Homo sapiens: one gene and its partners. The protein of the gene in region 3 purifies or fractionates together with the protein of the main gene of each other region. This does not show direct contact. Each region holds a gene or a part of one and is shown on either strand. Other genes may lie near its edges.

The links.
Region 1: the proteins of POPDC2 (region 3) and LRRC8C purify together in Homo sapiens (affinity purification with mass spectrometry; 2 studies listed by BioGRID and IntAct, with this or other methods). This does not show direct contact.
Region 2: the proteins of POPDC2 (region 3) and SLC12A9 purify together in Homo sapiens (affinity purification with mass spectrometry; 3 studies listed by BioGRID and IntAct, with this or other methods). This does not show direct contact.

What each region holds. Positions count from the first base shown.
Region 1 is NC_000001.11:89,631,443-89,635,188, reverse strand, and holds the start of LRRC8C (volume-regulated anion channel subunit LRRC8C), read right to left. Parts: upstream 2,070-3,746; 5' UTR 1,867-2,069; intron 1-1,866. UniProt on the Homo sapiens protein: Non-essential component of the volume-regulated anion channel (VRAC, also named VSOAC channel), an anion channel required to maintain a constant cell volume in response to extracellular or intracellular osmotic changes.
Region 2 is NC_000007.14:100,850,759-100,854,504, reverse strand, and holds the start of SLC12A9 (solute carrier family 12 member 9), read right to left. Parts: upstream 1,793-3,746; 5' UTR 1,670-1,792; exon of another isoform or gene 1,487-1,669; intron 350-1,486; 5' UTR 308-349; coding exon 127-307; intron 1-126. UniProt on the Homo sapiens protein: May be an inhibitor of SLC12A1. Seems to correspond to a subunit of a multimeric transport system and thus, additional subunits may be required for its function. May play a role in lysosomal ion flux and osmoregulation.
Region 3 is NC_000003.12:119,653,903-119,657,648, reverse strand, and holds part of POPDC2 (popeye domain-containing protein 2), read left to right. Parts: intron 1-3,035; coding exon 3,036-3,144; intron 3,145-3,746. UniProt on the Homo sapiens protein: Important for the maintenance of cardiac function.

The DNA of each region.
Region 1 (3,746 bases), on a different chromosome or scaffold from region 3:
TGTATTGTTTTTTAAAAGATAAACTTCATGGAAATAAAGTGCAACATTTTCATTCATTTATCTTACAGCTCCTAATGCATTATTTTCACTAAAAGCATTCCCTTTTAAAAATACATTTCATTAAAGTGCTTAATCTGAGAAATAATAGATTAGTACTATTAATAAAGGCTTGATTTTATTAATAAGAAAATTGTTAAATATACTTGGTATCTCTGATACAATTGTTGGGTTGATGGGTCCTGTCTGTGCCCAATCTATTATGTGAACCATGGCAAATATCCATCTTTGCAAAACTGCCCTACATCCCCCTCAAAGGAAACAAACTGACCCCAAGACAGAACTTAATCACTCCAGAGTAAAGCAAACCAATTATAGCCTTGGCCTTCCCTGTTAAAGCAAGTCACAAGAAATGCAAATATCCTAGACTAGAGCTGTATACATTTAATGTTTGTTTACACACTCAACACATTGTTTATGAATTGAGCGAGTTTTATGCAGCTCAGATTACGTTTTGGGTTTTCAACAAATTATTTAAAAATAAACAGAATTTATAAATGTATAAAAATTATTGGCTCTGGCGATTTTGCAGCATTGTGCTAACCAAGAGGACTACTCCACTTTTACTCCTTTTTCGTCTAAATGGCATCTTAATGACCTGCCCACGCTGAAGCCTCATCGATGCTTTGGGAAACCATCACATACCTGTCGGGAAATGTGACTGTTGGTTAAGGCTACGTTTCTCACACTACCGCGAAAGAAGTATGTGACTTACAAACGGCTGCGATTTCCTTTACCTATTCCTTCCTTCAAAGGCTGCTTTAAATGGAGGTAATTCAAGCCTCCCCGTGCCAAACACCGGCACTCCAACAAAGATGGATTGGTTCTTATTTTTTACTTTGAGGATGGGAACCTGAAAATGTTTCCTAACGTTTGCTGAGGCTTTAACATGTTTAAGGAATTTGAAACCAAGGGAAGTTTAGCCGTAATACTCTGAAATATCCGCATTAGGATGCGGGCTAGGTGTCCGGCTGTTGCAAAACTACGGAGGATGCGAGGTTTGGAAGAAACTGTTTGGACTTTGCTGTATACCGGGCAGGCGTGGGGGTTGGGGAGGGAAGAACCGGCTGAGGGAGAAAAGAAAGGCATTCGTGTCCACAGAACACATCTAAGGCTCCTGAGTTGCTAACTCCATCCCTAATCATCTCATTGGTGGGAACCAGCTGGAAAGGGAAAGATCAGCGAGCCTAGGCGTGGGATGAAGGCAGCGGTTTTGGCCTCAACCGCTGGCCTAAACACCTGGCTTCTGGGGCCCGCCCGATCAAGCTGAACCCCTTCCCTCCTGTCCTGCAGGTGAGCACACGGTGCTCTCACGTTTCTTCGAGAAACCTTCCAATTCCTTTCCCTGCCCAAAAGTGCTAACTTCAAGGGTTCGGAGGTGGCAGGGGGGTGATAGACCGGAAAGGACTGGCCCCGGGGTCTCAGAGATTTTCGAGGTAGGAAAGAACAACGATCGCCCCGGCCACGGACGCATTTCCCCTCGCGGACCGCCCCCCCACCCCCGCGCCCAGTCTGCAGGACCTGCCGCTGCGGCGCGGCGTTGGGCGCCAGGCTGAGATCCTCGCGCGGCCGCTCGGGCTAGCGCGGATTGGGTGGGGTAGGGGTTGGCGGGCTCCTGAGCCGCAGTAGCGGAAGGTTCCCAGCACCACACGCCGGGCGGGCAACCACATTCTGCCTGTCTGAGAGCCGGGGGGAAGCAAGGACGCGAGTGAGGCGGGGCGAGTCCCGGTCCGGCGCGCACAGCGGACCGAGCGGGTGGCCCTCTGCGGGCTGCCCCTCTCCATCCCTCCGCGGATCCCCCGCCCTTACCTCCGGGCGCGAGAGTGTCGACTGGAGAAGGTGCTAGGGAGCGGCGAGCTGCCTGGGGGTCGGGCTCAGCGGCTGCCAGGGACGGCGGCGTCGCCCGCGGGGTCGCTGCTCATGGCTTGTCGCGCCCGAGCACTGCGGCCGCGGCCACGGCGGCGCCTTCCTCCTACTTCTCTTCGCGGGCTTCCAGCCGGGACGCAGCTAACGCCCCAGCCCCGCAAGCCCTCCTCCCCTCCGCCTCCCCGGCCGCGGACGGAGCCGCCTCCAGCGCCGCCCCGCACGCAGCCCGGCTAGCGGCAGCCAGCGCCGCCCAGCGCCCGGCCCCGGGGTCGCCACCGCCCGCCGAGTCGACTCCGCGGTGCCAGCCCCGCTGTGACGCAGGCCGCGCCGCCCGGGAACTTCCTCCCCTGCAGAGACCACCTCGCTCCCGGGACTCGCCAGCGAGGGATGCCGCCGGCCGCCGGGGGCCTTCTCCAGGACCAGGAGAGAAATCCTCTCTCCGCTTCACGACGCGGCCACTCCCACCCCTGAGACGCCCACCTGGCGGACTCTGAGGGAGGATTCGGCTGCGTCTAATACCACCTCCACCCCTCATCCCTCACAATGCGCGGAAAACCACAGGCGGCTGTGCGCGCAGCGTCGGCTCAGCCACCGCAGCTCCTCCCCTGGGTAAGTTAGAGGGGAGCAGCCACCACTAAAAATAGCCCTTCTGGGAACTCCTCCGAAGGCCAGGGTCAGGATGAAGATAACCCCTCCACAGGAGAAGCGAAGGCCTCCTAAGAGAAGGGTGGGGAGGGGACGGTGGGATAGAATGAGGAAGATGGAGAAGGAGAAAAGCAAAACCCAATATCCTTGGATCATGAAGCCCTTGAGCCCCTTGACAACCAAGTCTCCTTTCAGGCCGGAATCCCCAACTGCACCGCCCCTGCAATACGGGCTAAGGGGCAGATTCCAGGGAGACTCAGTTGGAATGCCCCGCCTACAGCTCCCGCATAAAGGAGTTGACGGTGCACAGCAAAACCACCTGTTGTTTAACGAGTATGGAGGGAGGGGTTCTCTCTCATTGATTGATCTGAACCGTGCTTTTCTTCTCCCCATTTTCCCACCCAATTTCAGGATGAAAAAGCACTCTGACGTCTTGAAAGCTGGCAGCTCTCTGTTTGGAAAATCTCTGCCCAGTGAAAAAATGTACCGACAAGATTACTAAGTAACACAGTCTTCTGGGAATGCCTTATCAATGCCAGCTATTTGAAGAGCACCCAAAGTCAAACTAGTGCTCCGCGCTGGCAGTCTGGAAAAGGCAGATGTATGTGAGTAGAGAAACTGATAGACAACTAGTTGCTGGCCAGTTGGCCTGTTTTCGTGCTACAAGCCTTCAGAAAACAGTCGCCTCCTTTTACCACGTTTCTATTTCTAAACCAAAATGAAAAGGACGTTTGTTCAAAAGATATTCTCTTGGGCTTTACATTGCTTTCCCCCTGCTCACTCAGCAAAATCCTACACTTTTTTTCCAATTCCAATGCTGCTGTTGGGTGTCCTTCCCAGAAGACAACCTTAAATTCTCTTAGGCCTTAGGAGCTGAATCTAACACCAGTCTTAATTAACCTACAACAAGACAAAAATTTAGGTCCGGGCTTACCTCCTAGTCAGCAGATGGGAAAAATTCCTAGAGAGTCTCTGGGAAAAAGGCAAAGGCTAACTTTAGCAGTTTGCTAGAAAAAAAAAAATTCAAGTACCTTGTAAGTCACCAGGGTAGATGCAGCAATACTCTCTAAGGTAGCTTTACCTCTTCAATTCTCTTACCTTACCTGAATTTAAACACAGTGAGGCAAGTACCAAGGTCACAACCCTCCTGTGGAGGGCCTTATTCTGCAAGGGCTCTC
Region 2 (3,746 bases), on a different chromosome or scaffold from region 3:
CAAACCCTTCAGCCAACCGCTTCTCTTGGGTCCCCTTCCTAATCTTATCCCAGTCCCATCTCCACCCCTCCCCATCATGTCCTCCCATACTATAGTCAGTCCACACCCGCCCCAGGACCCACTCACCAATCCTCAGAAAAACAACTATGCTGAACATGGACAGGACAGTGGGCACCACCACACCCAGGAAGGTGGACAGCTTCCGGGCAGACGCCCCTCCAGGACCCCCGGCCCCATTGGCAGGGAGGGCAACCCCCTCCTCCCCCAGGAGCCGGTAGGCCAGCAGAGGTGAGCTCTCGCTGGCCATGGCTGAGCACAGGTAGAGGAAGCCACAAATGGGTTAGGTGACCTGCAAAGGAGATTATGTTGCATCAAAAGCTCCCCCACAGAGCTCGCCCACCCCCAAAGACCACTAATCAAACACCCTGAAGCCTCCCCAAAAGACAGAGCTGCTCTCTACTAAAAATACAAAAATTGGCCAGGCTCGGTGGTTCATGCCTGTAATCCCAGCACTTTGGGAGGACGAGGCAGGTGGATCACCTGAGGTCAGGAGTTCGAGACCACCCTGGTCAACATGGTGAAACCCCGTCTCTACTAAAAATACAAAAAGTAGCTGGGCATGGTGGCTCATGCCTGTAGTCCCAGCTACTTGGGAGGCTGAGGCAGGAGAATCCCTTGAACCCAGGAGGCAGAGGTTGCAGTGAGCCGACATCACACCACTGCACTCCAGCCTGGGTGACAGAGTGAGACTCCGTCTCACAAGAAAAAAAAAAAAATTAGCCAAGCGTGAAGGTGCATGCCTGTAATCACAGCTACTTGGGAGGCTGAGACACGAGAATCGCTTGAGTCCTGGAGGCGTAGGGCTGCAGCGAGCCGAGATCATGCCACTGCACTCCAGCCTGGGTGACAGAGCGAGACCCTGTGTCAATAAAAAAAAAAAAAGAGACAACCGCAAGGAAACAGGAACGCACCCACACCCTGCTTACCGGCAACTCAAAAAAGTCCGTGGGCTGCAAATGGTACCAGCCACTGCCCCACAAAAAAGTGGTACCCCAAACCTGTCAGCAGGGGTTTCAAGGCCCCTCCCGGCTCCTGGGGGCCACCCCTTCCCTTATGTTCCTGAGACTAGGGATGGCACCGGTTCTGGAAAGGGGCAAAGGTTCTCTGACGGCACAGGCTTCTCCAGCCTCTCCTTCCTTAACTAGCAATGCAAGAGGAACCAAATCTCCCAAAAGGGAAGTAAGTTACGGGCAGGAGAGCCTTCCCCATCCTCTCCTTCGGTGTCCTGAGCTGCCCCTACCAAGCCCCCCAATGCAATCACCGCACCCACAGGTAACAAGAAACTTCCAACTCTTTCAAAACCCCACCCTCCGTCAATCCTCTCCCTCAACCCATCTCAAACCCCCTCCTCCTCGCCTTAGCCTCCCCGATTCCTCCCATCCACACGAGGCACCCCTCCCCACAAACTCTACCAACCCAAACACACCCTAGCGAAACAGAAACACAGACCGGCTCCCACCGAGCGACACAAGGTCCCCGGGTCCTCCTCCTCCCCCAATCCGGGCTCCTGCCCCTTTGCGCCCGTTGGGGTGCAAGGGAGCCAAGATATCCTTCTCCCCGGCCAGGTGCACCCCACAGCTCGGGGGCCGCGAGGCGCTCACTCACCCACCCGCAGGACGCAGCGCTCGGGGGCGATCCCCGCGAGCCGGGGGGCTCCGCTCGGGCGGAGAGTGCACGGGGGCCGGAAAAGACAGCTGCGGCTACCGGGATGCCAGGCCTGGAGCCTGTCCCCACCCCCACCAGCACGCGCGCGCTATTGGTCCCCGTCCTCGGCCCCGCCCCATGGCGCGCCCGGAGAAGCCCGACCCTCTCTGCTCTTCCCCAGCCTGCGCTGCTCCAGCTCCACGTGCGCCCGGGGATGCAATGCAGCCCTGCAGACAAGCGTCTCCGGCAGGACGTGGGCCGCGGGTCTCGGAGCCTCCTTCACTTAGGTACAAACAATCGTCGCCGCAGGGGCCGGACCCCAGTCCGAGCTCCGAGGTGCGGTGAGCAGCCACCCCACTAAAGGGGGCGTGTGAGGATGGCGGAAAGCGGCAGGGAGGTGGGCGGGGCTGCAACACCTGGGCCAGGTGCGTCACGGGAAATCCGGCCCACTTCGTTCAGGGACTTCTGGAGTTCTAGTCCTCCAACCTCTCAAAACCCTAGAACCTCCACCGGGTCCCAGCCTCGCCCCTCACCCGCTGCGGGGATCCTCCCTTCGCGCCCGATCCAGCTGCGCTCTTCGCTTCCGCCACCGGAGGGAGCCATTGGCCGCCGATCTGGGCCCAGGGTCGCTTTGCACCGTCTGATGCCCGCTTTCTTGCCTCCCTGCAGTGTTCTCACTTCCAGCAGAAATCCTAGAGCCTATGAACTCTACTGAGAGCTGAGACTCCTTCTTCACTCTTTACAGATCCCATGAACAGCAGTACCACCTGCCAACGCGTCCTCATATGTAAAATGGGCATAAACTCGAACCTCCCTCCTAAGGCTGTGAGTTCAGTGAGCATTTAATGGGCACTTTAGAACAACGCCTAAAGGTTTGATAAATTATCCCTTGCAAATAGCACTGCATTAAATTAGCCACTCTGTGAGGTAGGTACCGCTATTTCAATTTTTCAGATTAGGAAATTGGAGCTTGGAAAGTTTCAGATACATTTCCTTTTTTTTTTTTTTTTTTTTTTGATCCAGGAACTATTACACAGGCTGGAGTGCAGTGGCGCGATCTCGTGTCACTACAACCTCTGCATTTCCGGCTCAAGCATCCTCCTGCCTCAGCCTCCGCAGTGCCTGGAACTACACAGGCACACACCACGCCTGGCTAATTTTTAAATATTTTGTAGAGACCGGGTTTCGCCATGTTGCCCAGGCCTCTCTGGAACTCCTGAACTCAAGCATGCGCCTGCAGTCCCAGCTACTTAGGAGGCTGAGGCAGGAGGATCGCTTGAACCTGGGAGGCAGAGGTTGCAGTGAGCTGAGATCGCACCACTGCACTCCAGCCAGGGCAACAGAACGAGACTCTGTCTCAAAAAAAAAAAAAAAACTTTTTCAGGGTCAGTTAGTTATAAGCACTCCCTTGGCATACCCTGGCCTGTCCGTCACTGAACTCTGCTTCCATAAATCTCAACCTCCACCTTACCTTGTTAGTCTGTGGTTTTGCCTTGGACCTTGTCTTCATCAATGACTGCAGCCCCTCCTCTTCAGTTCACCTCTTCTACTGCGCTTATTAAAGAAAAAAATCTGACTCTTGTTAAAACAGTAAGTCAGACTTTATTCAGGACTATTTTGATTGGCACCAAGAAGGTGGCAAGGAGCTGGGTGCAGTGGGTCACGCCTGTAATCTCAGGACTTTGGAAGGCTGAGGCAGGAGGATCACTTGAGCCCAAGAGCTCCAGACCAGCCTGGGCAATAAAGTGGGACCTCATCTCTACAAAATTTTTTTTAAAAATTGGGCCAGGCACGGTGGCTCACGCCTGTAATCCCAGCACTTTGGGAGGCCGAGGTGGGTGGATCACGAGGTCAGGAGATTGTGACCATCCTGGCCAACATGGTGATACCCCATCTCTACTAAAAATACAAAAATTAGTTGGGCGTGGTGGCACGCACCTGTAATCCCAGCTACTTGGGAGGCTGAGGCAGGAGAATAGCTTGAACACGGGAGGCGGAGGTTGTGGTGAGCTGAGATCTCGCCATTACACTCCAGCCTGGGC
Region 3 (3,746 bases):
CTGACATATGCTGCAGCAGCGCCATTCTCTTCTGCTGTCTTCCTTTGCTATGGAAGCTTTTCAGTGAGGTTTTGATCCCCTTTTATGGTGACACAAGTGAGTTTGTTCCTTGGTTTCCTTTGTTCATTTATTCATCCTTACTTTCTTGCTTCCTTCTTTCCTTCTTTTCCCCCTTCCATACATATTTATTCAGAGTCTTGAATAAAGCTCCTGTCTTCCAGCTTTAGGTTGTCAGATAATAGGTGCAATTGTTTTTTTAATTGGTGCTGGTCTTTGGTAATTTGTATACACGCATGTATACCTAGGCATTCATTAAGAGCAAGGCTCAGGAGTGCTGATATCCCATTGGCCAGGACTTATCACTTGCCTATGCCTAGCAGCCAGGGAAGTAGAGAAATGTTGATTTTTTTCTCTGCAGTCATGTGTCCAGTTAAAATCTAGCACCATTAAGGAAGAGAAGAAAGCAGATACTGGAGAACAGACTGCCACACTGGATTTCCCAGGTCTTTGTTCATTCTCATCTTTATCTGCTTCTCAATACCCTTTGCATCCCTCAAAATTCAGCTCAAATGTCATCTCCTTCGAGAGGTCTGCTGCCCAAAGAGAACCAATCTTTCTCTCTCCTCTGTTACTGTTCCACAATAGCACCTATCACATTGACTTGCAGCCAGTTATTTATGTGCCTGTGACTTCCACTAAATTGTGAAATCCTCAAAGACAAAGACCAGATTGTGCCCATCTCTGCATTCCCAGATCTCCAGAAACATGAGAGATGCTCCAGAAATATTTGTTTAGCCAATAAACCTCCAGAAATAATGGAAGGATATCTCCCCCAAATGAACAAGGTGTACCTTAGAGATCTTTTTCATCTTCCCCCTTTGCCTAATAGAGGCACCCCTATTGCCTGATATAACTCACTTTAGAAGAGAGGTTAAAGATGAAACTCTGAGTTTTCTGGGCAGGGGTCGGGTTGGGGGAAGGATAAAGCCCATACTGGATTCTAATCTTCTTCCAGATGTGGCCTCACATCTGAAATACACTCCCTGTCCTCAGGCATCATCAATGACATGCCATCAGTTCTAACAAGTTCTCATGGAATGCAGTCTTTTTACCCTGCAGGGGCAGAGCACTAGGCTAGGTACAGCCACAAGGGTACAAAGGCACCAAGCAGCAATAGTAAGGCTCCTAACCCCTTAAGTTGTGAAACCAAGCCTGTGGTCATGGGCAAGTCAAGAGCAGTTAATGACTTAAGACTTAAGACTTAAGAATATTCATAAAATTAAAGCAAATAATTCGGATTTCTGGCTGCAGCCACAGTAACCCACTCTAGCCAACAGAAGGGGGAAAAAAGGTCTTTATTTAAAAAAATACAAGGATTTCTTATGAAACTCAAGGAAAGACATGCACCTAAGCCTCAGGTAGTGCTAGAAACAAGAACATGTCCTACTAGGACATTTTATGTGATTTCAAGTTTATTTTCTCTATAGCCAATTGGGACCCATGCTTTTCAAAGTCTGAGTTACGTGATAAAAAAAAATTTTTTTTAGTTCCTTCAGGGAGGAGTGTGTTAGTTTTGTTAATAATGCCTGATAATTGTCCCCATCCAAGGCATGATTTACACGCAATTCCATTTCCAAATTCCCAGGGAAGGAGTTTGATTGGCTCAGCTTGAGTCAGGTGTTCACTCTAGGACCATCAGCTGGATAGGGTGCATGGGATCTCATTGTCTAAAGAAACAAGCTGTTATTGTCACCTACGGTTAGAGAGGTCCGGGAAAGGGTCATGCTAGGAGAGTCCACTACCATCTACCCAAAGCTGTAGTAATAGGGTGGCAACATGGTGTTGTGCTAAGAACATAGAATTTTAGTTCCGCCACTTGATCGCTATGTAGCCTTAAGCTCGCCACTCAACCCTTCTGAGCACCAGTTTCCTTAGCTATAAAATACAGAAAAGAATAATCTACCTTGTGGTGTTGTGAACATTATATAAGAGAACACTGGTAAAGTGTCTAGCAGAGTCTGGCATATGGTAGACTTGCCACTTCCTTCAAAGTCTACAAAGTGGTTAAATGTAAGCATGAATCTTCATGTAGCTAATGGGAAGGGAGAAAGGAGAATCTGTGGAGCAGCGGATCCAACAGAACTTTCTGTGATGACAGAAACGTTCTAGATCTATGTTGTACAACATGGTAGTCACAGGCCATATGTGGCTATTGAACACCCATATTGTAATTAGGTAAGGAACTGAATTTTTAATTTTATTTAATTTTAATTAATGTAAATGTAAACTTAAATAGGCAGCAGCATTCTTTTCTCTTTTTTTGAGACAGAATCTTGCTCTTTTGCCCAGGCTGGAGTGCAGTGGTGTGATCTCGGCTCACTGCAACCTCCACCCCCGAGTTCAAGTGATTCTCTTGCCTCAGCCTCCCAAGTAGCTGGGATTACAGGCACCCGCCACCATACCTGGCTAATTTTTGTATTTTTAGTAGAGATGGGGGTTTCACTCTCTTGGCCAGGCTGGTCTCGAACTCCTGACCTTAGGTGATCCACCTGCCTCAGCCTCCCAAAGTGCTGGGATTACAGGTGTGAGCCACTGCGCCGGGCCAGCAGCAGAGTTCTTAAGCAGTAGTTTCTATCTTGGCTACACATTAGAATCACTGGGGAGATGTAAATACTAATAATATCCAGTTCCTACCTAGAGAGATTCTTGTTTAATTGCTCTGGGATAAGGCCCAAGCCTAGGTGCTTTTTTTTAAAAGCTTCCCTGGGACTTCTACTCTGCAGCCTGAAATTGAGAACCACCAGTAAGGAGAAGGAGGAGGAAAAATGAGGGTTCTGGAAGTCTCAATGGGTTCCTTTTCTGAACTACTTGCATGCAGTAATTAGGCTGGCTAGTCTAGCTTTGGGTTTTACCATGCTTTAGGCAAAGTATTTCTACAGGAAGATTCATGTTAATCAGCGACACCTAACTTCAGCATAGGTGGCTTGGAGAGCCATTTTCCTTTTCCCACATGATCTCTTCTCTTCCCTTGCCAGGGTTCGTGTGAGCCAGGATGGGCAGTTTCTGCACTACATCTTTCCATACCAGTTCATGGACTCTCCTGAGTGGGAATCACTACAGCCTTCTGAGGAGGGGGTGTTCCAGGTAACAGGGAGCCTGGTGGCAGCACCGCCTCACCCCATCCCACTGTAGCCCAGCAATATCCGTGCCTCCATGTTTCCCCTCTTACATCTGTCCTTCGCACCCCTGCCAGTGTGAAGCTACAGGCGGGGGCACTCTTCCTCTGAAAAGAGTTCCTGGGCTCCTAGCCATAGGTGAGGTAGGGTAGGAAGATGCTGGCCCCTGGGTAGACCATGTTACTTGTATGCTTAAACTCTTCTGGAAGACCCTAGTGCCACAACATAAAAACCCACACTTGTTATAGGGTAACTTAAACCTTTTAGTGCTCTCTAGTCGCATTTCCAGCTCTCCCTCCTTCATATTTTTTGCTCATACTAGCCATGCTGAACCACTAGTACTTCCCTAAACACACCACATTGTTTTGCAGCTCTATGCCTTGGCCCCTACTCTCCCCTCTGAAATGCATTTCCCCTTCTAGATGAGACCACGGAACCTCACTTCCACTGTGAAGCCTGCTTCCACCCCACAGCCTCACCAGCTTCCACCCCACAGCCTAGCACTCCTGTGTGCCTGTTCTAGTCCTTTTACTTATGCTAACTGGTGCACATCTTGCTGTCTGTTCTAAT